3 separate regions of the Homo sapiens genome follow, and regions 1 and 2 are each linked to region 3. The links come from fine-mapping of genetic effects on gene expression. A gene starts in region 3. Each other region holds a variant in brackets. All regions are shown on one strand. Distances are between the middles of the regions. Region 1 overlaps SPNS2 (SPNS lysolipid transporter 2, sphingosine-1-phosphate). Region 2 has its middle 9.5 kb from the start of SPNS3. Region 3 holds the start of SPNS2 (SPNS lysolipid transporter 2, sphingosine-1-phosphate).

Evidence for each region. PIP is the estimated chance that this variant, and not a neighbour inherited with it, causes the effect.
Region 1: its variant is fine-mapped to the expression of SPNS2 in whole blood (TOPMed, PIP above 0.99).
Region 2: its variant is fine-mapped to the expression of SPNS2 in whole blood (INTERVAL, PIP above 0.99).

What each region holds. Positions count from the first base shown.
Region 1 is chr17:4,531,428-4,539,194 of GRCh38, forward strand. It overlaps SPNS2 (SPNS lysolipid transporter 2, sphingosine-1-phosphate), which reads left to right. Exons shown (of 13, transcript NM_001124758.3): 6 at 1,115-1,257; 7 at 1,550-1,702; 8 at 1,816-2,005; 9 at 2,361-2,426; 10 at 4,649-4,747; 11 at 4,836-4,999; 12 at 5,473-5,519; 13 at 6,026-7,608. The coding sequence ends at 5,515. MYBBP1A (MYB binding protein 1a) reads right to left here. Exons shown (of 26, transcript NM_014520.4): 26 at 7,477-7,767. Among named protein-coding and RNA genes, the nearest start is that of MYBBP1A, 20 kb to the right of the region's middle. The variant C/G (reference allele first, on the strand shown) is at 3,231.
Region 2 is chr17:4,420,537-4,428,303 of GRCh38, forward strand. No RefSeq gene overlaps it. Among named protein-coding and RNA genes, the nearest start is that of SPNS3, 9.5 kb to the right of the region's middle. RefSeq lists a silencer at 154-353. The variant C/T (reference allele first, on the strand shown) is at 5,015.
Region 3 is chr17:4,495,136-4,502,902 of GRCh38, forward strand. SPNS2 (SPNS lysolipid transporter 2, sphingosine-1-phosphate) reads left to right here and starts at 3,746. Exons shown (of 13, transcript NM_001124758.3): 1 at 3,746-4,282. The coding sequence starts at 3,913. It overlaps SPNS2-AS1 (SPNS2 antisense RNA 1), which reads right to left and starts at 3,600. Exons shown (of 3, transcript XR_001752763.2): 1 at 3,016-3,600; 2 at 2,407-2,580. RefSeq lists silencers at 3,539-3,598, 3,609-3,758, 3,819-3,868 and enhancers at 3,910-4,545, 4,546-5,180, 7,452-7,767.

The DNA.
Region 1 (7,767 bases), 36 kb after region 3:
CCAGGTCCATGGCGGTGCTTCCTGCCTCCAGCCCTGGCGCTGTGCTAGGGTAAGGCTGGGACAAGACCTCTGTGTGGGGGCCCCAGAGTCTGGAGCCACTTCCGGTCTCGCTGGGTTTGGGGCAAGTTACCAAGGCCCCAGGACAGCGCAATCGGAGGAAACAGAGATCCCTCGTCTCTCGGAGGAGCGGAAGCTTAAGACAAAGTGTTTTTTCCTAAAAGCAGGAAGGAAGCGGCCTCCGTGGAATTTCTTAGTGGGGTGGGGGGATGGGGAGGCGAGAGGGAGGTGGCAGGCAGAGGAACTCCCCAACCCAGGGGCTCCCAGTCCCGGGGGCATGGGGGAGAGTGTTCTGCGGGGCTGGTGAGATGGAATCCAGGCTGCCAGGGTGTTACCCTCCCACCCGGAGAGAAGCCTGGGGCCTTGGAGGTTCTGTTCTGGAAAATGGGCTGGAAACGGGGAAGATCCAAAAGGGCTCGGGAGCCTCTGTGGGGCCTGCATCGGGCCCCCACCAAATGCCAGCCCACTTGATCTGTCAGTCCAGCGCTTCATACCCAAACAGCACCTTCCCAGGGCCCTGCGGCTGAGGAACCTACGTGGGGAACCTGCTCCAGGAATTTTCTCCTCCCTCAAAGTCATCATCCCATCTGGCTATCTACTTATTTTCCATCCGTCTGTCCATCCATCCACCATCCGTCCGTCTATCTATCCGTTCATCCATCTGTCCATCCGTCTGTCCATCTGTCCATCTATCCGTCCATCCCTCCATCTATCTCTGTCCATCTCTCCATCAACCTCTTTAGCCATCTCTTCTCTATCTATCCACCCACTGCTCCACTCACCCACCCCTCCTTCTTCCTTCAGTCTGTCTGGCTTCCCTGCACCTTCCCACCTCTGGTCCTGCCCCTGGTCTGGACAGGCCATCTCAAGCCTCCAGTCTCTTGACCGACCTCAGCCCCAGCTTTTCTCAGCAGCCCAATTAGGAAGGCTGGGCAGATACCTGCTCAGAGGAGAAGCCTATGGCCCAGAGAAGGCATGGGCTTGCCTGAGTCCCTCCTTCTGCAGCAGGGACGAGGCTCACTGGGCCCTGGTGTCCTAACTTCCTGCTCTCTGGCAGGTGTCCCCTGTCCTGGGCATGATCACAGGAACACTCATCCTCATTCTGGTCCCAGCCACTAAAAGGGGTCATGCCGACCAGCTCGGGGACCAGCTCAAGGCCCGGACCTCATGGCTCCGAGATATGAAGGCCCTGATTCGAAAGTGAGTACCGCGGGAAGGGGTCTGGTGGGAAGAGAGAGGGGTGCTGAGATGAGAGGGCCTGTCCCTGCAGGGCAGCCCACTAGCACCCTCAGCCAGACACCCCACCTCTGCTGTCTCAGTGCTGGGAGGGACATTTTGGCCCCAGAATCGATTATTCCTGCAGCCTGAACCCTCACCCCTGGAGCCTGTAAGACGAGGCATTTGGGGGCCTCCTGTTCCCCCAGTGCATGGGGCTGCCTAGGGGGGTGAAGGAGGTCCCTGAGCTCAGTGTCACTGCCTGGCCTCTCCCCAGCCGCAGCTACGTCTTCTCCTCCCTGGCCACGTCGGCTGTCTCCTTCGCCACGGGGGCCCTGGGCATGTGGATCCCGCTCTACCTGCACCGCGCCCAAGTTGTGCAGAAGACAGCAGAGACGTGCAACAGCCCGCCCTGTGGGGCCAAGGACAGGTGGGGCCCCGCGGGGTGGGCCCAGGGCTGGTGAGGGACCTCGGACAGGAGAGCCCCTCAGCCTTAGCCCTGAGCCGCCTCAACTCGTGCGCCACCATCCTCTGTCCCCACAGCCTCATCTTTGGGGCCATCACCTGCTTTACGGGATTTCTGGGCGTGGTCACGGGGGCAGGAGCCACGCGCTGGTGCCGCCTGAAGACCCAGCGGGCCGACCCACTGGTGTGTGCCGTGGGCATGCTGGGCTCTGCCATCTTCATCTGCCTGATCTTCGTGGCTGCCAAGAGCAGCATCGTAGGAGCCTATGTGAGTGCAGCGGGGGTCAAGGGTGCTGGGGGAGCTGGGCCTGGGCCGCGGGAGGGTCTGGAACAGGACATTCGGTCTGACTTACTGGATGTTCCCTTCCCTCGGGGAGGCTCCTATTCTCTGGCTGCCCCTGCTCATCCCCAGCCTGGCCACACACAGCCTGTCCAGGGCCTCTGGGTGCCTCAGGGCCGTGGGCATGGCTTGAAGTCTCTGGATAGCCCATGAATGGATGTGGGCCCGGGAGGGGTGTGAGGTTTTGTGGGCTCCCTGCCAGCAGCCAGTGTGTAGGGAACAGAGACTGTGGTTGCTGCGGATGGAGGGACCGCTGATGGTGGCTTTGCCTTCTCCCCGGCAGATCTGTATCTTCGTCGGGGAGACGCTGCTGTTTTCTAACTGGGCCATCACTGCAGACATCCTCATGGTGAGCCAGGCAGGCCGAGGTCACCTTGTGCTGCTGACCCAGGCCTCTTGACCTCACAGGGGTGCCTGGGGAGGGCGGGTGAAGGGGCGGGAGAGCTGGTAGGAAGGCAGGCCTGCCAGGAACGTGAACCCAGAGGCAGGGAGGGGATCAGAGAGTTTGGGGTCTGCCTCTGGCCAGGGCTGGAAAACAGGGTTGGGCAGGCAGACAGAGCACCATGTGGAGACTGAGGGGGAGGGGGCATCTCGAGGCTCAGGTTAGTGGCTGGGAGGCTGGCGGTGCCAGGCTGGCACTGAGGTGGCGCTGCCTGCCCGCCCTCCTCCCCCCGCTGGGTCTGAGCATCCATAGGCTCTGCCCTCTCTACTCAGCCTGGCTCCCAGGCGTGCCTGCGGCTGGGGCTGGGCGGACAGAGGCTGTCTTCACAGGGCCAACAATGGGCTCTAGCCCAGCCAGCTGGGGACAAAGGGCTGTCTTGAGCGGCCAGCAGGGGCTTGTGTCCCTGGGTGGGGATGGGAGCACCCTGGGAGGAGCCAGGAGTGGAGCTAGGAGTTCATGGCCCTCTGGGCGTGGCAGGGGTGAGTGTGACACTTGGTCCTGTGCCCAAGGGTCAGCCTGGCCAGGGTCAGGAGGGGACAGGAGAGAGTGTCTGGGAGGTGTCAGGGCAGGCTCTGGGGCAGAGAGGAAGGACTCGGGTGGATTCTCAGGGTGCCCGGGTTTGGGTGCCCCAGCATGGGACAGCCCGGGAGATGAGTGTGCCAGGCACTGCGGCCCCTGCACTTCGGGAAGCCTGCCTTACCCCACCCTGAG[C/G]CTCCGGGCGTATCCGCTTCCCCCTGGGGTGGCTCTGTGTCCTCCCGAGTCCATGGGCTGCGGTGGTGGTGGGGAGGCCTGGCGCAGTTCAGAGCCTCAGCACGGAGCCAGGCGGTGGCAGGGGTGCGCCAGGGTCACTGCACAGGCCCAGAGTGAAGGGAGGAGTCCGTGCAGATTAAGTGCTCTTGGTGCTGGGCAGGACCCCCTCTCCTGCCTCCACCCCCAGGGAGCGCCTGACAGCTGCCGGCAGGGTCAGGGTCCCGGGGAAATCGCGTCCCGGTTTATTAAGTGTAACAGTTTATTCCTGCTGGAAACAGGGCCACTCGTTTCATCAGATTCAGGCCCTTTTCCACCCGCCCCCCACCTCTCCCGCAACGGGGTGCCCCGTGGGTGCTGGTTGCTTGCACACAATGCCCACTAAGGCTGGCACTCCAAAGAGGCGAGGCAGCTGGAGCTCGGGGAACAGGGGCTGCCTGGGCACCCACAGAGCTGGCTGTGCCTGTCCCGCCCCCACCCCAGCCCCTCCTGTCTGACTCTGGCCTGCCCAGCTTTGAAGCCAACCTCCTGTAGGTTGGGGCCTGCTTGGTCTGATGGGGGTCTGGGGCCCAGCAGTGCCGGCATTTGGTGCTGAGGGTGCCCGCGGGTGCGAGCGGAGGCTCTTGCAGGCAGGGGCCTGCCTCACCAGCTCCTGTCCCAGGCCAGTCGAGGCCTGGCTTGGTCCTCAGGGAGGGGAACCAAGATGGGTCTTTAGCTTGATGGGAGGTGAGGACAAATGGCTGTGGCGGGGGTTCAGGTTCCCTCGGGAACATGTGCCTCTCTAGACCTCAGTGTCCCCGTGACCCAGGTCCAAGGGCAGAAGCCAAGGCACCCTGGTCTCAGGAATGGAGCAGGAGCCGCGCTGGAGAGGCAGCAGCATGGCCGTTCCTGATGGCTCGGGTACTCCGAGGCTCGGAGGGCTCTGGGCTAATGGCCTCTAGTGACTGGCGCCTGGGCAACCCCCAAAGTATCATTCCTTAACTGCATGTAGCTGGGAGGGAGGTGAAGATTCCAATTTCAGAGGGGTGTGCTGGGGGCACAGCAGGTTTGAGGCCAATGACGCTTTCAGTATGGGGCAGGTCGCAGTGGTCTGGGTTGGAGGTGTGGAAGCCCCTGGGGTGAGGGTGACTGCAGCTGTGTGTGGGTGGGAGGGGCTCAGGGAGGAGAAGGGTGACTGGCAGGAGAGAAGCAGCCAGGCTGGTGGGGTGGGCAGTAGAGGGGACTGTGGGGAGGAGGGCAGGGCCCAGGGGAGAGAGGTGTCAAGACGTAGGGCAGGAGTGAGTCTGAGGGTGTGGGGGCTTCAGAAGTGCCACGGCCCGGGGCCAGGGCCAAGCGCGTGAGCCTTTCTCCTCTGGCCGCTGACCTGCCCGCCTGTTCCGCAGTACGTGGTCATCCCCACGCGGCGCGCCACTGCCGTGGCCTTGCAGAGCTTCACCTCCCACCTGCTGGGGGACGCCGGGAGCCCCTACCTCATTGGCTTTGTGAGTAGCCCCGGGGTGGGGCTGGCCAGGGCAGGCTGGGGGACTGCAGGAGGGCTCTGCCCTGACATCCACCCCCAAATCCTCGCAGATCTCAGACCTGATCCGCCAGAGCACTAAGGACTCCCCGCTCTGGGAGTTCCTGAGCCTGGGCTACGCGCTCATGCTCTGCCCTTTCGTCGTGGTCCTGGGCGGCATGTTCTTCCTCGCCACTGCGCTCTTCTTCGTCAGCGACCGCGCCAGGGCTGAGCAGCAGTGAGTGGGGGGGAGGGGAGGCCCTGCTGCACCGCCGGGAAGCAGGGACCGTGATAGCCACCGTGAGCCCTGCCCTGGGGTGGGGCGGGGAGGGTACAGACCTCCCATGCACTCAGTGCACCCACTGGTTGCTGGGGTCCAGCCCTGAGGCCCAGTGCCAGGGTCAGCCTGGAGCTGTGGGAGGCCACGGGGGTGTCTGGTGGATCCAGACTTGGGTTTGTCTCTGGACTTAGTGGTTTTCAAAGCTGGGGCCCCTCCCCTTCCTCTTACTTTCTGACTTCTTTCTCCTTTCCTCTTTACTCCTCTCTCTCTCCTCTCCCCACCCCTGGGCTCTCCCATCTCCCCCTGGGGCTGACGAGGTCCCTGCCCAGCACCTCCGGTCAGCTGGCCCCCACGACACGATGTGCCAGAGCAGTGCCCGGGCCCGGCCCCCGCTGATGCACCACCCTGACCCCCGCCCGTCTCTCCCCCAGGGTGAACCAGCTGGCGATGCCGCCCGCATCTGTGAAAGTCTGAGGTGGTGAGTGCAGGCCGGGAGGCACGTGGGGGCTCCCTAAGGAAAGGGGAAGGCCAGGGTTAGGCAACAGGGAGCACTTTTCCTCCAGAGTCACCTCCTACCCCAGCACATCCCACCAACTCTGGGCTTTGTCTCTGAAGATGTTGCCAGAATTTACTGATGGAGCCATGGGTGGGACAGCAGGCTGCTCCTTCCAGTAAATTAGCTCCCCTTTCCTTCCTTTCAAGGGCTGGGTGGGGCCTCGCATAGATCAGGGCCAGGACTGGCCAGGAACTCCTCACTCTGTCCGGACTTCTGTTCTCCCAAATCCTCCTGGATGTACCAGGGCCTGACTCCTTGGCCCTTCCCTCTGGGAGTTATAGCTTCCCAGCAGCACGAGACCCAGGGTCACAGCTGCAGGTCCAGGAGAAGGCTTGCGTCTCCAAACAGCAAGAAAAGGGAAGGAGGGAGGGCAGCCTTGGCACAGGCCCCACTAAGCCCCACTGCTGACCTGACACCCCTTTCCCCAGGTGCCATTGGGACAATGAAGAACCCACACTCCCACCTCGTCTGGGAGGTGTCCTACAGCGTCCGGGACCGGCTGGGCTGCCCCAAAGCTTTCTGTGTGATCCACGGCTAGGCACCCACCCTCTCTGGCCCAGGCCTGCTGAGTGGCCCTGGCATCAAGAAGAGGCTGTGTCCTCAGTTACCCTGGAAGGATGTGTGTGTTGGAGCCACACGGTTGGACAGGTTCCCAGCCCTAGGTTTGGGCCGCAGGGCCCCTGGGGCCAAGGAAGAAGACAGCCCCAAGTGGGTGTCCGGGGAGAGCCTGGCCTGCCACCAGCTTATGTGATCTTGGGCAAGTCCCTGCCCTCCCTGGAACGAAGGGCCAGGGGGCTGGACTTTCCCACACAACTTGCTGGGCAAAGCACGATCTGCAGCTTTGAAGACTCAACAGACCCTGGACCATACGGAGAGCAGGTGGCCCAGGCCTCAGGGCGGCAGTCCCGGCTTTGAGGCTCACGCGAGGGCCTGGTATGCAGGGACCACTGCTCAGCTGGGCCTCGGACCTTGGGGATATTGGACGCAACCTGGCAAATGAAGCTGGGCGCCCAAGTCTCTGGGTACTCCCTGGAGGACACTGTCTCACTGTCTCGGGTTGGCTCCCAGCCTGGAGGTCCCAGATGGGGACTGTTCTGACAAGCTGGCATCACCAGGGGTGAAGGCCCTGGCTGCAGCTGTACACCACCTGTGCCCCCAGGCTCAAGGTCTCTGGCAGGTGCACACCAGCCCAACTCTGCAGGGCTTCTCTCCCTGCCACCACCCCCCAAGCCAGGACCCCACTCCTTCCCCGAGGCTGAGCTGAGCCTTTTCCAGGGGCAGGGCCCAGGAGACCATTCCCAGAATCCATGGGGCAGTAGCCAGGGCTCCGGCTGCTGGAGGAAGCAGCTATCCACAAAGCTTCCTGCCCCAGAGCTGAGGCTGAGGCCCCGGGAGAGGCGGCCCCTACCCAAACACTGGCTGCTGGCATTCCACCAAGTGACCCCAGGGGGGGGCCAGGCCTTCGATCACCCACCTCCCATCCATGCACACACCAGGATGCAGCTGCCAACTTCACACCAGCCCCAACCCGCTTTGGGGGAGCTTAGCCCCCTGCGTCACCCACTCCCTGCACTTCTGCTGCAATCAAGGTGGTTCTGGTGCGGGGGTGGGGTGGGGGGTGAGGCCTTGTGGCCAATGGGGGACCCCCCAAGAGCCAGCTTGGACAATGCTCTTCTTGCCCCTTAGTTACTGGCTGGCTGTGGCTTCAGTGGTGTGTAAGCAGGTGGAATACTCACCCACCAAGCTCTGGGGTACCCCGAGGGCCTGACAAGAGGATGGGGTGGGGGTGGCATCCTCCAAAGACCAGCCTCCACCCCCACTCCAGCCTCAGCGGGGCCCCAGCGATGTTTTCTTGTTGTACAAGAACCAGGTCCGAGTGTTGCCTCCTCTTCCTTCCGGAAGCCAAACTGCTCCTTTATTTTTTAGAGCTGCTGATTGTGAATCTCAGAGTCTTAAGAGAGAAGCCAAATATATTCCTCTTGTAAATGAAGAAATAAACCTATTTAAATCACCCCCTGGTGGCTCCCTCACAGCAAAAAAGCCTGGGGGCAAAGAGGTGGCAGGCACGAGAGATGGTCACACCTGCCTGCAGCCAGCACATCAACCTGCACCAACCCAGGCAAACACCAGAGCCCTGGACATGGCCCTGGAGCCAGGGTCCCAGCCCAGA
Region 2 (7,767 bases), 75 kb before region 3:
TGGCTCACGCCTGTAATCCCAGCGTTTTGAGAGGTCGAGGCAGGTGGATCGCTTGAGCCCAGGAGATGGAGGCTGCAGTGAGCTGTGATGACTGCTACTGCACTCCAGCCTGGTTGATAGAGTGAGACCCTGTCTCAAAAAAACAAAAACCATTCAGGATCTTGAGACCACCCTGTATCACCCAGAAACTTTTGAGAGCCTACACCATGCGGGGCATAGGTCATGACTGCTATTTCCCATCATGACCACATGGTGTCGCCATTGAAACCTGGTTGTAACCAGTCCCCAGGACTTGGTGGTAACGATGCTTTTTGAAATCGTGCTAACCTCAGCGAGAAGGGTTCTAGGCTTGAGATGTCAAGCTTGCTGTTCTCAGGGTTCAGTGGCTGTATTTCCTGCACACTTTCCACCATCTAGGGTGACTCCTAGCTCCAGGAGGCCTGGGTTAGGACAGCTTCTGACATCTGCCACCTTCTAGATCTAGAACCTAAAATTTTCCCTTCCTCTTTGGGAATCCATACCAGGAGCTCGTTTCAGCCCTGCAAGCATCAAGGCTGAGAGGTGGTTAGCCATCTGCGAAGACATGGTCTGCTTATCCCGTGGCCACTTTCTTTTTTTTTTTTTTTTTCGAGACGAAGTCTTGCTCTTGTCTCCCCAGGCTGGAGTGCAGTGGCACAATCTCGGCTCACTGCAACCTCTGCCTCCTGGGTTCAAGCGATTCTCTTGCCTCAGCCTCCCGAGTAGCTGAGATTACTGGCGCCTGCCACCACGTCTGGCTAATTTTTGTATTTTTAGTAGAGACAGGGTTTCACCATGTTGGCCAGGCTGGTCTCAAACTCCTGACCTCAAGTGATCCGCCCGCCTCAGCCTCCTAAAGTGCTGGGATTATAGGCATGAGCCACTGCGCCCGGCTACCCTGTGGCCCCTTTCTTTCCCATTCTTCCTCAGAGACAGAGGCAGACTTCCCTGGCACCCACCTTCCCAGCTTCTCCTGCAGACGTGGCACCGACATGTGACTCAACCTGGCCAGTGGGCTGTGAGGGAGCACCAGCAGGGGAATTTCTAGGGCAGATTTTCCTCCCTAATAAATACACATGAACACATTTCAGGATGAATCTCCTACCTTCTTATATGTGAGACGACAAGCCTCAAGATGGAGACTGTGGTAGCCAGCCTGCAAGAAGATCTCGTGGCAGGGCGTGGTGGCTCAGGCTGGTAATCCCAGCACTTTGGGAGGCTGAAACGGGTGTATCACCTGAGGTCAGGTGTTCGAGACCAGCCTGGCCAACATGGAGAAACCCTGTCTCTACTAAAAATACAAAAATTAGCCGGGCGTGGTGGCAAGTGCCTGTAATCCCAGCTACTTCTGGGAGGCTGAGGCAGGAGAATTGCTTGAACCTGGGAGGCAGAGGTTGCAGTGAGCTGAGATTGCACCACTGCATTCCAGCTTGGGCGACAAGAGCAAAACGACATCTCAAAAACAAAGCAAAACAAAAAAAAAATTGGCTTGAATAAAATACATAAATCTTCTTTTTTTAAAAAAGATCTCCCGCAAGCTTTCCCTCCTGGTATTCATGCCCTTCCACATGGAGGGGCAGCAGAGAGTATGGGAACACAGAGCATAGACTGGCCTGTGTGGCCAATGGAATGCAGCTGAGTACAGACCTAGGAGTCCAGGTCAGGAAAGATGCAGGCCAGACGCAGTGGCTCACGCCTGTAATCCCAGCACTTTGAGAGGCCGAGGCAGCTGGATCACCTGAGGTCAGGAGTTCAAGACCAGCCTGGCCAACATGGTAAAACGCTGTCTCTACTAAAAATACAAAAACTAGCTGGGCGTCGTGGCATGCGCCTGTAATCCCAGTGACTCAGGAGGCTGAGGTGGGAGAATCGCTTGAACCCAAGAGATGGAGGTTGCAGCGAGTGGAGATTGTGCCAGTGCACTACGTCCTGGGTGACAGAGCAAGACTCTGTCTCAAAAAAAAAAAAAAAAAAAAAAAAGATGTTGCAGTTTCTGCCTTGGTCCCTAATGTATTGTTCCCCCTGCAGGAAACTAGCCACCATACCGTGAGGATGCTCAAGCAGTCCTGTGGAGGGACCCATCTAGACAGGAGCCAACAGGCAGCACCAACTTGCCTGCCACGTGAGTGAGGCCCCTTGGAAACAGAGCTCCCAGCCCCAGTTAAGACTTTAGGGGACTGCAGCCCTTCACGGCAACAAGAGACCCTGAGCCATAGTCCTGCATCTCAGCTGCTCCCAAATTCCTGACCACTGAAAAATGCAAGAGATAAATGACTACTGTTGTTTAAAGCCATGAGTTCTGGGGGGATTTGTTTTATAGCAATTAATTAAGTAATCAAAGGCCAACACTATAAAGATTTCAGGGGGGAAAGATGAAAAACACTGAGTTTTTTATGATGTCATGGAGCCACTGAGTTAATCAACCCTGAAACTGCCTACTTCTTGATTTGCAGTGCAAGAGAACGAATGAATGTCCTGGTTTGGCTGCTGTTACTTCTGCTGTTACTTGCGGACAAAAGCATCCTTATTGATTCATCACATAAAAGATGACTCCCTGGGGATTTCTGAAGAGTGATTCCTGGCCGGGCTCGGTGGCTCATGCCTATAATCCCAGCACTTTGGGAGGCCGAGGTGGGTGGATTACAAGGTCAGGAGATCTAGACCATCCTGGCTAACACAGTGAAACCCCGTCTCTACTAAAAATACAAAAAATTAGCTGGGTGTGGTGGCAGGTGCCTGTAGTCCCAGCTACTCAGGAGGCTGAGGCAGGAGAATGGCGTGAACCCGGGAGGTGGAGCTTGCAATGAGCCGAGACTGCACCACTGCACTCCAGCCTGGGTGACACAGGGAGACTCCATTTCAAAAAAAAAAAAAAGTGATTCCTGAGTGACTTCCTGTGACCTTCTTTTTTTTTTTTTTTTTGATTAAGGGTCTTGCTCTGTCACTGAGGCTGGAGTACAGTGATGCAATCACAGCTCGCTACAGCCTCAACCTCCTTGGCTCAAGCAATCCTGCAATCCTCCTGCCTCAACCTCCTGAGTAGCTGGGACTACAGGCACACCACCACCATGCCTGTCTAATTTTTTTTTTTTTTTTTGCAGCGATGGGGGCCTGTTGCCCAGGCTGGTCTCAAACTCCTGGGTTCAAACAATCCTCTCACCTTGGCCTCCCAAACTGTTGGAATTACAGGTGTGAACCACTGTGCCCAGCCTGTCACCTCCTATTCTGTGAGGCTGGACATTTCTTTTGTTAAAAAAAGGACATAAATTTAAACTCTGATGGGAGCCACTCTGGAAGGGTCTCCACTAAAAATCATCTCAAATGAGCTTTTTTTTTTTTTTTTTGAGATGGAGTTTTGCTCTTGTTGCCCAGGCTGGAGTGCAGTGGTGCGATCTTGGCTCACTGCAACCTCTGCCTACTGGGTTCAAGGGATTCTCCTGCCTCAGTCACCCAAGTAGCTGGGATTACAGGCACCACCACCATGCCCGGCTAATTTTTTTGTATTTTTAGTAGAGACGGGGTTTCACCATGTTGGCCAGGCTGGTCTCTATCTCCTGACCTCAGGTGATCTGCCCGCCCTGGCCTCCCAAAGTGCTGGGATTACAGGTGTGAGCCACCACGCCTGGCCCCCAATAAGCTTCTGTATCAGAATTCACGAGAAAAAGCAGCCAAATAAGCTATGACTGGCCAGTTCACAAGTTTGTCTTTGATGTGTTTTATTATTTTTATCTGAATGGAATTATCCTGGACATGGATTTTGTAGGCTCTTGTTTATTTTTCACCATCAAATTCTGAACGTCTTTCAGATCAACATAGACTAACATCATGTACAGGGCTGTCTGGTGCCCCATTGTAGGGAGGTACCATGATTTATTTATTAATTTAATTTTTTTTTTTTTGAGATGGAGTTTCGCTCTTGTTGCCCAGGCTGGAGTGCAATGGCAGGATCTCAGCTCACTGCAACCTCCGCCTCCAGGGTTCAAGCGATTCTCCTGCCTCAACCTCCCAAATAACTGGGATTACAGGCATGTGCCACCACGCCCGGCTAATTTTGTATTTTTAGTAGAGACGGGGTTTCTCTATGTTGGCCAGGATGGTCTCGAACTCCTGACTTCAGGTGATCCGCTTGCTTCGGCCTCCCAAGGTGCTGGGATTACAGGCATGAGCCACGGCGCCTGGCCTGGAGGTACCATAATTTATTTAACCAGCCTCTGAAGCTGGGAATCTAGAATGTTGTCACTGTTCTGATATTACAATAACCCCATTTACTTTTTTTTTAATTGTGGTAAAATAATATAGAATTTACAATTTAGCCTTTTTTTTTTTTTTGAAACAGAGTCTTGCTCTGTCGCCCTGACTGGGGTGCAGTGACGCGATCTCGGCTCACTGCAATCTCTGCCTGCCGAGTTCAAGCGATTCTCCTGCCTCAGCTTCCCAAGTAGCTGGGACTACAGGCATGTGCCACCACGCCCAACTAATTTTTGTATTTTGTATTTTTTTTGACAGAGTCTTGCTCTGTCACCCAGGCTGGAGTGCAGTGACATAATCTCAGCTTACTGCAAGCTGTGCCTCCCGGGTTCACGCCATTCTCCTGCCTCAGCCTCCCGAGTGGCTGGGACTACAGGCGCCTGCCACCATGCCTGGCTAATTTTGTTTTTGTATTTTTAGTAGAGACGGGGTTTCACCATGTCAGCCAGGATGGTCTCGATCTCCTGACCTCGTAATCCGCCCACCTCAGCCTCCCAAAGTGCTGGGATTACAGGCGTGAGCCACCGCGCCCGGCTAATTTTTGTATTTTTAGTAGACACGGGGCTTCACCATTTTGGTCAGGCCAGTCTTGAACTCCTGACCTCGGGTGATCCGCCTGCCTCAGCCTCCCAAAGTGCTGGGATTACAGGTGCGAGCCCCTGCGCCTGGCCTCAATTTAACCATTTTTAAGTGTAAAGCTCAGAGGTACTAAATGCACTCACGTTGTGCAACCATTACCACCCTCCAT[C/T]TGTGAAACTTTTTCATCATCCCCAACTGAAACTCTGTGCCCATTAAGCAATGACCCCATTTCTCACTCGCCCCCATTCAGTCCCTCCTAACCTCTATTCTACTTTTGGTCTCTGTAAATTCACATATTCTAGTCCAGGCGCCGTGGCTCTCATCTGTAATCCCAGTACCTTGAAAGGCCTGAGGTGGGCAGATTGCTTGAGCTCACGAGTTTGAGACCAGCCTTGGCAACGTGGCAAAACCCTGTCTCTACAAAAAATGCAAAAAATTAGCCAGCATGGTGGCGTGTGCCTGTAGTCCCAGCTACTCGGGAGGCAGAGGTGGGAGGATGGATTGAACCTGGGAGAAGGAAATTGCAATGAGCTGAGATTGTGCCACTGTACTCCAGCCTGGGTGACAGAGCCAGACCTTGTCATTCATAAATAAATAAATAAATGAATGAATAAAATAAATAAATGGCCGGGCGCGGTGGCTCAGGCTTGTAATCCCAGCACTTTGGGAGGCCAAGGCAGGAAGATCACCTGAGGTCAGAAGTTCGAGACCAGCCTGGCCAACATGGCAAAATCCCATCTCTACTAAAAATGCAAAAATTAGCTGGGCGTGGGGGGCACGTGCCTGTAATCCCAGCTACTCGGGAGGCTGAGGCAGGAGAATCGCTTGAACCCAGGAGGTGGAGGTTGCAGTGAGCTGAGATCGTTCCACTACACTCCAGCCTGGGTGACAGAGTGAGACTCCGTCTCAAAAAGAAACAAATAAATAAAATAAAATTAAAATTAATAATTAATTAAAAAATTCACTTATTCTATAAATCTCATATAAGTAGAATCATACAATCAATATTTATCTTTTGCATCTGGGTAATTTCACTCAGCATGATGTCTTCTTTTTTTTTTTTTTTTTTTGGAGACAGGGTTTTGCTCTGTCGCCCGGTCTGGAGTGCAATGGCACGATCGTAGCTCACTGCAGCGTCGAACTCCTGGCCTCAAGCCATCCTCCCACCTCAGCCTCCCCAGTAGCTGGTTTTAGAGGTGTGAGCCACCGCACCTGGCCAGTTGGATATATTCTAATGCTGCTCTCCTGGCTAACACCTAGCCTCCCTGACTTGCCCAACTCCTGGGAGTTCTGGCCTCAAGAACCCCTCCCTAGTCCCTGACTGGCTCTGAAAACCACCACAGCGTCTCTTTCTTGTTGGGTAAAGGTGAGGGCTGGACCCTGGAAAGGTCCTGTTTGGGGCAGCAGCTGCTAGGTGGGGGCTGCCAAGGTCCCCACTGCTGTGTGGTTTGCATGAGTGTGTGTGAGTGGGGGTGTGGGTGCTCGTGTGCCCACCTTCTCCTCATGCACTCACACTTGTGGATGTAGCTCTGCCCACTACTCTTTGGCTCTGAGGGCAGGGGCTGAGAACAAAGTTTCATCTACATGTGCTGGGGAAAACCCCATTATATTTAACACTCACAATACTTCCTCCATACCAAGCATAGTTCTAGGCACTTTTCAAACATCATCGTATTCAAGCCACAACAGTCCCATGAGGTGTGTACTATTTTTATCCCCATTTTATTTGTTTTATATTTATTTATTTTCAAGACAAGAGTCTTACTCTGTCGCCCAGGTGGGAGTGCAGTGGTGCGATCACGGCTCACTGCAGTCTTGATCTCCTGGGCTCAGGTGATCCTGGGATTACAGGCATGCACCACCATCCTTGGCTAATTTTTGTATCTGTATTTGTATTAAAAATTTTTTTTTTTAGTAGAGACGGGGTTTCACCATGTTGGTCAGGCTGGTCTCGAACTTCTGACCTCAGGTGATCCACCCGCCTCAGCCTCCCAAAGTGCTGGGATTACAGGCGTGAGCCACCGCGCCCGGCCTTAATTTTTACATTTTTAGTAGAGACGGGGTTTCGCCGTGTTGCCCAGGCTGATCTCCAACTCTGAACTCAAGCGATCTGCCTGTCCTGGCCTCCCAAAGTAATGGGATGACATTCACGAGCCACTGTGCCTGGCCATCCCCATTTTGTAGGTGAGAAAATTGAGATGGAGAGAGGTTGAGTGATCTGCCTGAGATCCTATGGCCAGTGAGCAGTGAGTCTAGCTGCGGAGTACAGGTTCTGAAGCAGGATGCGAGACCGCCTGCACGTGCGCATGGATGATCTTGAACTTCCCCTTCATTCACCAACTGTAGACCCCATGTGGGTGGTCACCGAGACGGTATGCGGCTGAACCAGGCAGTGGATGCCAAGGACCTCGTCATCATCGTCACCACCACAATAACAATACTCTACACTCTGTTTGTCACATGACAAGCTCTATGTTGGAAACAGTATGTGTATCTATATTAGTTCATCCTCACAATTAACCCCTGAAACATCGTCATATTATTCTCTTTTTAAGACTTACTGAGTCTTGCTCTTGTTGCCGAGGCTGGAGTACCATGGCGCAATCTCGGCTCACTGCAACCTCTACCTCCTGGGTTCAAGTGATTCTCCTGCCTCAGCCTCCCGAGTAGCTGGGATTACAGGCATGCACCACCACGCCCGGCTAAGTTTTTATATTTTTAGTAGAGACGGGGTTTCACCATGTTGGCCAGACTGGTTTCAAACTCCTGACCTCAGGTGATCTGCCTGCCTTGGCCTCCCAAAGTGCTGGGATTACAGGCATGAGCCACAACGCCCAACCCATCTTATTATTCTCTATCACAAATGAGAACACTGGTTGGGCGCAGTGGCTCGTGCCTTAATCCCAGCACTTTGGGAGGCCG
Region 3 (7,767 bases):
CCCAGGCTGGAATATGAAAGTCTCCGTTTCTCTGTCTTTGCTCCTGTCTGTCTTGGCTCTCTTTTTTTTGTTTTTTGTTTTTTTGTTTTTTGTTGTTGTTGTTGTTTTGAGACAGAGTCTCACTCTGTCACCCACGCTGGAGTGCAGTGGTGTGATCTCGGCTCACTACAACCTCCGCCTCCTGGGTTCAAGCAATTCTCCTCCCAAGTAGCTGGGATGACAGGCGCATGCCACCACACCCAGCTAATTTTTGTGTTTTCACTAGAGATGGGGTTTCTCCATGTTGGCTAGGCTGATCTTGAATTCCTGACCTCAAGTGATCTGCTCGCCTTGGCCTCCCAAAGTGCTGGGATTACAGGCATGAGCCACCGCGCCCAGCATCAGGAAGCCCCTTCTTAAGGAGGATCCCTTGAGCCCAAGAGGTCAAAGTTATGATGAGCTATGATTGCACCACTGCGTTCCAGCCTGGGTGACAGAGAGAGACCCTGCCTCTTAAAAATTTTTTCAAAAAAAGTAAATTTCAGGCCTAGGTGAGAGGCTGCCAAGGGGGAAGGGAAACAACCGAGGCCTGAGCCCTGGAGACACTCCCATGTGGGAGGATGGGCAGAGGGCAGATGGGCTGAGCTCCCAATTACCAGCCAAGGAGGAGCAAGTGCATTCTAGGCCAGTGTTTCTCAGAGTGTGTCCTGCAGAGCTCTCGTCTTGCAAGACATTCTGTGGTCACACACACCTGGGAACGTGGCATCCTATATCTCCCTCTGGGAGACTCAGAGCATGTATTCTCATAGTAAAGGCTCTCAAAAGTCCCTAAGGAAACCTACTTTTCTGTGTTTATCCCACTACTTCCCAAGTATGACTGCTCTTTGAATAATGGCCATTAATGTTCTGTGCCCCATTTTTTTCTTTTTTGTGTGTGTTCTTTTCTTTTTTTCCCCCCACTTTTGTTTTTTGTTTTTGTTTTTGTTTTTGAGATGGAGTCTCACTCTGTCACCGAGGCTGGAGTGCAGTGGCATGATCTTGGCTCACTGCAACCTCTGCCTCCCAAGTTCAAGCAATTCTCCTGCCTCAGCCTCCTAAGTAGCTGGGATTACAGGCGCGCCCCACCACGCCTGGCTAATTTTTGTATTTTTAGTAGAGACCGGGTTTCACCATGTTGGCCAGGCTGGTCTCGAACTCCTGACCTCAGGTGATCCACCCACCTCGGCCTCCCAAAGTGCTGGCATTACAGGTATGAGCCACCACGCCGGCCCCCATTTGTTTTGAAGCTGTGATCTAGACCTAATGAATGAATATCAGAAGGTCCTTTAGCCACGGAGTTCAGCCTCCTGTTATACTGATGAAGAAACAGAATCCCGCCCAGTCTGAGGGCAGCGTGCAGTGGAGGAAGTGCTGGATTAGAGGGTAAACACACCTGGGTTTAGTCCATGCACTGTCATTTACCAGGTGTTCGACCTTGGGCAAATTACTTCTTTTCCCTGGGCCTCAGTTTCTTCATTGGCGAGATGGAGGAAAGAACCCTACCAGTCCTCTGTCTGACAGCCCCAGGTTACTGCCAGAGCTTCTCAGAAGGCTGTAGGGATTTGTCCTGGGCTGCACAACCAGAAAGGGCTTCTTGTCCTCCCTGTCCCTCTGCCCTTGGTGGCCCCTTATCCCACACAAGGACTTATTCTAGAGGCTGCCTTTGAGTTGAAACCCCAGTGAAACACAGTGGGAAGGGCTGGCTTGCTTGGTGGCAGCTCAGAGGTCCCCCAGGTTTGAAAGGCTCATGCCACCCTCTTCCCCTGCTCTGGGACCTTCCCAGTGGTGAAAAGGGAAGGCAGCAGAAAGAGAATGCTCCCCTTTCTGTCAAGGCCGAAAGTGTCCACCTGGACAGGACTGTGGCCAAAGGGATGAGGAGTTTTGGGGCACGGGAAGGGGACCCTGGGCTTGGGTCTAGAGTTGTGGTTGTGCCTCCTTCACCACTAGACACAGTTCCACAGCTGGGCAGCCTCCCACAGCTGGACTCTGTCCACCTGCTGGCACCATCACACACTTACGAGATCATTGCTGGGGCCGGGTTCTAGCCCCACGGAGCTCCTAGCTCTCTGTCCTTGTTTGTTAATCACCCGTCATGCCAGGCCACCATGGGGAACTCCCCCCATCCGCCTTTGCAGGCCTGAGCTCAGCGAGCTGGAAAGAGGCAGCAGGCAACTTTGAGAATGAAATCTGTTTTCCTAACCCTCCCGTCACAGTCATTCATACCCAGCACGCTGAAGCATATTTTTAGTCACTTTGCAGAATTTAAAATACACCTCGAAGGCGCCAAGAAACACCAGCTTGGGGATTAACTCTGCTCACAAGAGACAGTGGAGGGGGGCGGGGGGGGTGCCTCGTGCTGTGTCACCCGTTGGCTATGCCATGACTCACTGTGGCCGAAAGCTTCACCAGATGCACCTGCCTGTGGACGTGGGGTCCGGAAAAGCCTCTAGCGGGGAGTGAGCTCCAGCCCTCGGGGATGATGCCAGAGCCTGGGGCAGCTCCAGCCCTGCCACAGCTTCACTGCCTGTTCGTAATGGGTCACGTCCGTGCCCTGGGACTTGTCTGTGAAACACAGGGAATGATTAACTGGTTTCCGAGGGTTTGTCCAGTTCTAACATTCTGTCCTCTGCACTTTATACAGGATTTTAATTTCGATTTTAATTCCCCAAACAGGTGAATGGGGGAGGGAAGGGGGAGATCGTCACAGAGCCACAGCACCTCTAAGGAGGGGTGAAACCGTGATGGGATGTCAGGAACACAGAAGCACCCCAACCACTCTCCATAGGAGGCAGACCCCCGCCCCGTCCCACCAAGGGGAGGTGACCACCCGTGGATTTCCAGACTGAATCCCATCCTGCCATCTGCCCCCAGATACAGAAATGGAGGCCCAGAGAGTGGGTGTCATGTTCAGGATCATGCCACACACCAGGGCAGAGCTGAGCTAGGACCCAGCCTCCTGTCTGCCACTGGGGGCTTTGTACCCTCTCTAGCACATACCTGGAAGTCTGAAGCTTGGAGATGTGGTCCCTCAGGAGGGAAAGCCCCTTCTGAATATCCTGTTTCTGTTGGGCCCCAATCACAGCCCTTGCTCTCCCCGCCAGGGGCTGCGGGCCACTCTGTGGGGCAAGGGTAGGGTCCGGGTGCCCACACAGGAATGGGCCCGGGGTAGGTTGGGGGCTGGATCTGGGTTGCCCTGGGGAGGTGGGAGACACAGCCCACCATGACTGGTGGAGGTCTAGGTTCTGGGCCCTCCCTGAACTGGTTAAATCCGGGCGTGTGAGTATCGGAGGAGCCACCGGCTCTCCAACTGGCGCCCCTGACTTTAGCCATCTGAGACTCCTCTCTCCAGTTCTCCCAGATACGCTAGGCTCAAGCCCTCAGCCCGGCTCCCAGAGCCTCCGCCGGGAGTCCACGCCCGAGGCAGGGGTTGGGTGAAGGGTACTGAGTAGGTGCTGGGAGCCCCGTCACCAGCACCCTGCTCCCAGCTCCGTAGCCAGAGCAAACCCTCTCCCGCTCCCCGCGGGCGTTCGCGGCCGGTCGGCCCCGGCGTGACTGCGCCCCCATTGGCAGGAGGGGCTCTGCCGCCCGGGCCCCCAGTCCCCGGGCCCCCCACCCCCAGGGCAGCACGTGCGGGGCGGGGCTGTGGCCCGAGCCCGGAGCTGATTGGGCGCGGGCCTGGTGGGCGGGGCCGGGCCGCAGCTGTCAGAGCCGCGGCGGCGAACGAGGCGCAGCGAGCTGAGCGGTGGCAGCGCCGCAGCCGGGGCCGGAGCGCAGGAGCCGACGGGGCCCGACCAGGATGGTGCAGTGGCGGCTCCGCGGCGCACGCACGCGCTGAGCGGGCCCAGCCTGGGCCCCGCGCCCCCCGCGCCCCCCGCCGCCCCGATCCGGGCCGGCATGATGTGCCTGGAATGCGCCTCGGCGGCGGCGGGCGGCGCGGAGGAGGAGGAGGCGGACGCGGAGCGGCGGCGCCGGCGCCGGGGGGCGCAGCGAGGGGCTGGCGGTAGCGGTTGCTGCGGGGCGCGGGGCGCGGGCGGCGCTGGAGTCTCGGCCGCGGGCGATGAGGTGCAGACGCTGTCGGGCAGCGTAAGGCGGGCCCCGACCGGACCCCCCGGCACCCCCGGCACCCCCGGCTGCGCAGCTACTGCAAAGGGCCCCGGCGCTCAGCAGCCCAAACCGGCCAGCTTGGGCCGCGGGCGGGGGGCAGCCGCCGCCATCCTCAGCTTGGGCAACGTGCTCAACTACCTGGACAGGTACACCGTGGCAGGTGAGCGAGTGCCCCACCCAGCCCGAGGACCAAGACCCCACCCCATCCCACCACCCGCCTCGAGGGAGGTACCCCAGAGAGCTTTTGGTCTCAGGCCTGCTATCTCCAGGCCCTACGTGAGGTCCCTACGGACCCTCTGCTCAGGCACAACTGGGCAAGGGATGCCTCCGTGCACCACGGGTACAATCCAGCTCCCCGCTCATACACACCCGGGGCCAAGGGATAGAGGAGTCCCCACCCCTGGAGCAGCCCGCGCGTCCTCTCCAGCCCTTGACGGCCCATCCGTTGTCCTCCTCTCCAAGAGTCTCCTCTGCGTCTCTCTGTCTCCTTGTCTCTGCGCCCCCTCCGACCCCAGCTGCCGGTTCCCGGGCCTCCTTCCCTTCCCTTCCCCCAGCCCAGGTCGTCTGTCCGTCCATGGCCCGTCAGTTCCTTCCTTTCTCCGCCGCCTCCACCCCCCTGCGTGCGTGCGGCGAGTGCGCGCGCCCCTTGCGGGTGTGCGCTAGGGAGACCGGGTGTGTGTGCGCGTGGCGGCGCGGTTGTGTGTGAGCGCGTGGCTGACAAAGGCTCCGGGCTGCGGGGAGCGGAGGGAGGGGCGGGGCGGGTCCGCGGCGCCTGGGGACCCAGGCTGCGGTTTGCAGCTGGCCCTGTACAGAGGCCTGGAGACGCCTCCCCCTGCTCTATGGTGCTTGGGGTGTAGGGTAGGGCGCAGGCCTCTGGAGCTAGAGACGTGGAGCCTCATCCTCAGGGAGCATCTCTGGGAATCAGCCTTGGGGACGGGATTGGGATCGATAGAACAACTGGGTTCTAGCCCCAGCTTTGCTCCTAATGTGCTTGGTGTGTGACCTTGGGCCAGTCTCAGCGTGTGTTTAGGTCTGTTTGCCCGTTTGTGAGTTGATTGATCATTGGGCCTTTGGGGGACGCACGTGGTTCTGGAATTGCCTTCTGCTGGCTCCCTTCCCCAGCAATTAGGGGTGGGTCTAGGGGTAAGAATTTGCCCTAGACTGAGCTGCTACTGGTTGGGAATGGTGGAGCTTTGAGAGGGAAGGACTTTGGCCAGACTGGCATAGGAAGGGGCTCCCTGCAGGAGGAGAGCAGTACTGTGTGCCTGGCATGCTGGCCCAGAACCTGCGTAACTATAGCTTAGTAAAATCTGGAGCTATCAAACACACACACAACAGAGAGAGAGAGGAGATAGGAGAGAGGGAAGGATTTATTTTTGGACAGACTCTAAAGAGAACTTTGCGGCAATTGAGGGAAGAGAGCCCGGGCATAAACCACATGCCACCTGGTGCCTTCTCTGGGCCTCAGTCTCCCCGTCTGTTGAATGGAGTTTTGTGTCAAATGGAAGGGAAGAATTCTGATGGGAGGGCAGAGGCTTCCCCCTCCCCCCATTCCTGCTTTCAACCCCCCTTGGCTCTCTGTCCTTCCGCTGGAGGAAATTGGAAGTGGGTACCAGTGGCATCAGTTTCTGGGTCGAGCTATCCCAAAGAGAAACTTACTTTGGTCTAGAGAGCAGGAATATTGAGCACCTCCCAAAAACGCCAGCCGCTGTCACGCATGCACCATGCTGCCGGGGACCTGGGAGCATAAGCGCCATCCTTTGGGGGAGAAATCAGAGAATACCTGGGACCTGTAGTCAGTTCACAAAAGGCTTCTGTACACAGATAGGGGGACCAATGTCCCTGTACAGCCCCCGTTCAAGATGGCCAGGAAAGTGACTGGCAAAGCTGGTGTTAGCTCTAACAGTAAGGCTCTGCCTGGGAGGAGGTCTTCCCACCCTTTCTCAGCTGAAGAAGGAATGGTACTACTTCTGGCACTGTAGCGCTCTCCAACTTGTTTTTTTTCTGGCCCCAGACCACCCCCTTTGACGTTCTTAGGGGAACTGCCTCTGCCAGGGGCAGAGCCAGAGAGGGTGGGATCAGGGAGGGCTGGCACTTATCTGCTCCCACTTCTACTCAGGTCTCTGAGTCAGATTGTCAGCATGGGGGAATGAGATAGGAAATTTGTGGTGAATTGGTAAAGGGAGGTGGGGAGTGGTGGCTAAGAGGGGCGTGGGGCAGTTAGGGAGGAAGGCCCGGAAAGTCCTGTGCAAACACTTGCCTGGGCTGTGCCTCCCTCCCTCTCCTGGCCTGGAGTGGGAGCTCACACACCACCCCACCCCCAACACACAACAGACACAGGTTTCCTCTCCGGATAAGCCTGGTTGCCCCTCTCTCTATGGTAGATTTCCCCATCTCCACTTCCCCAAGTTCAGTTTTTAGGAATATTTATTATCTCTATGGTAACTACTATGGCTTGATGTGCTAGGGCCAGGGGAGTGCTCATCCCAGGCCTGAGTGCACCTGTTGCTGGCTGGCCCAGCTGGGACAGAGATGGGGATGCAGAGACTCAATTGCTCAGTCTTTGATGCTTGCACCTACCTGGCCCCAGCTCCCCACCAAAGATGGAAGGGAGGTCCCACTCTCCTTCTTTAACTCTGTCCTTTAAATCTGTTTTTTCATAGTGTAGACCAGCTTTGTCCAAAAGAAATATAATGTAAGCCACATATTCCTGTCAAATTTTCTGGTAGCCGGACTAAAATAGTACAAGAAATAGGTGTGATTAATTCATAATATATTTTATTTAACTCAATATATCCAACATATTTCAACATGTAATCAATATAAAAGTTGTTAGGGCTGGGCGCGGTGGCTCACGCCTGTAAACCCAGCACTTTGGGAGGTCGAGGCGGGTGGATCACCTGAGGTCGGAAGTTCGAGACCAGCCTGGTCAACATGGTGAAACCCCCCATCTCTACTAAAGTAAATACAAAAATTAGCTAGCATGGTGGTGCACACCTGTAGTCCCAGCTACTCGGGAGGCTGAGGCAGGATAATCGCTTGAACCCAGGAGGTGGAGGTTGCATTGAGCCAAGATCGCGCCACTGTACTCCAGCCTGGGTGACAGAGTGAGGCTCTGTCTCAAAAAAAAAAAAAAAATTATACACACACACACATATGTATGTTGTTAATGGGATATTTTGCCTCCCTTTTCATACTAAGTCTTTGAAACCCAGTATGTGTATTTTCCATTCACAGCACATGTCAATATCACGGTGGCCAGGGGCCACTAGAGTGGACAGTGCAGGTCTAGAGTCTTTGTTGCCAGAGTTCGAGCCAAGGCTCTTCAGCTTCCCAGCCGTGTGACCTTGAAGACATCACCTGAGCCTTCTGTGTGATCATTCCCCTCCCGCCTGCCTCCCGGGTTGCGTGGGATAAATGAGACTGTATCTCGAGCACCTGGGACGGGGCCAGATTCCTAGGAGGGCTTCACGAGTGCCAGCTGCCTTCTCCTTCATGCCTCTGCTCAAGCTGGCCACGATGCCTTTCCTGGGATTTTTGTTGTTGTTGTTCTGTTTTTTGTTCTGTTTATGACAGTCCTTTCAGGACACCTTTGCAAGCCCCTCCCTTCTCCACAGGGCTGGTCTCCATCCTGGGAACTCTAGT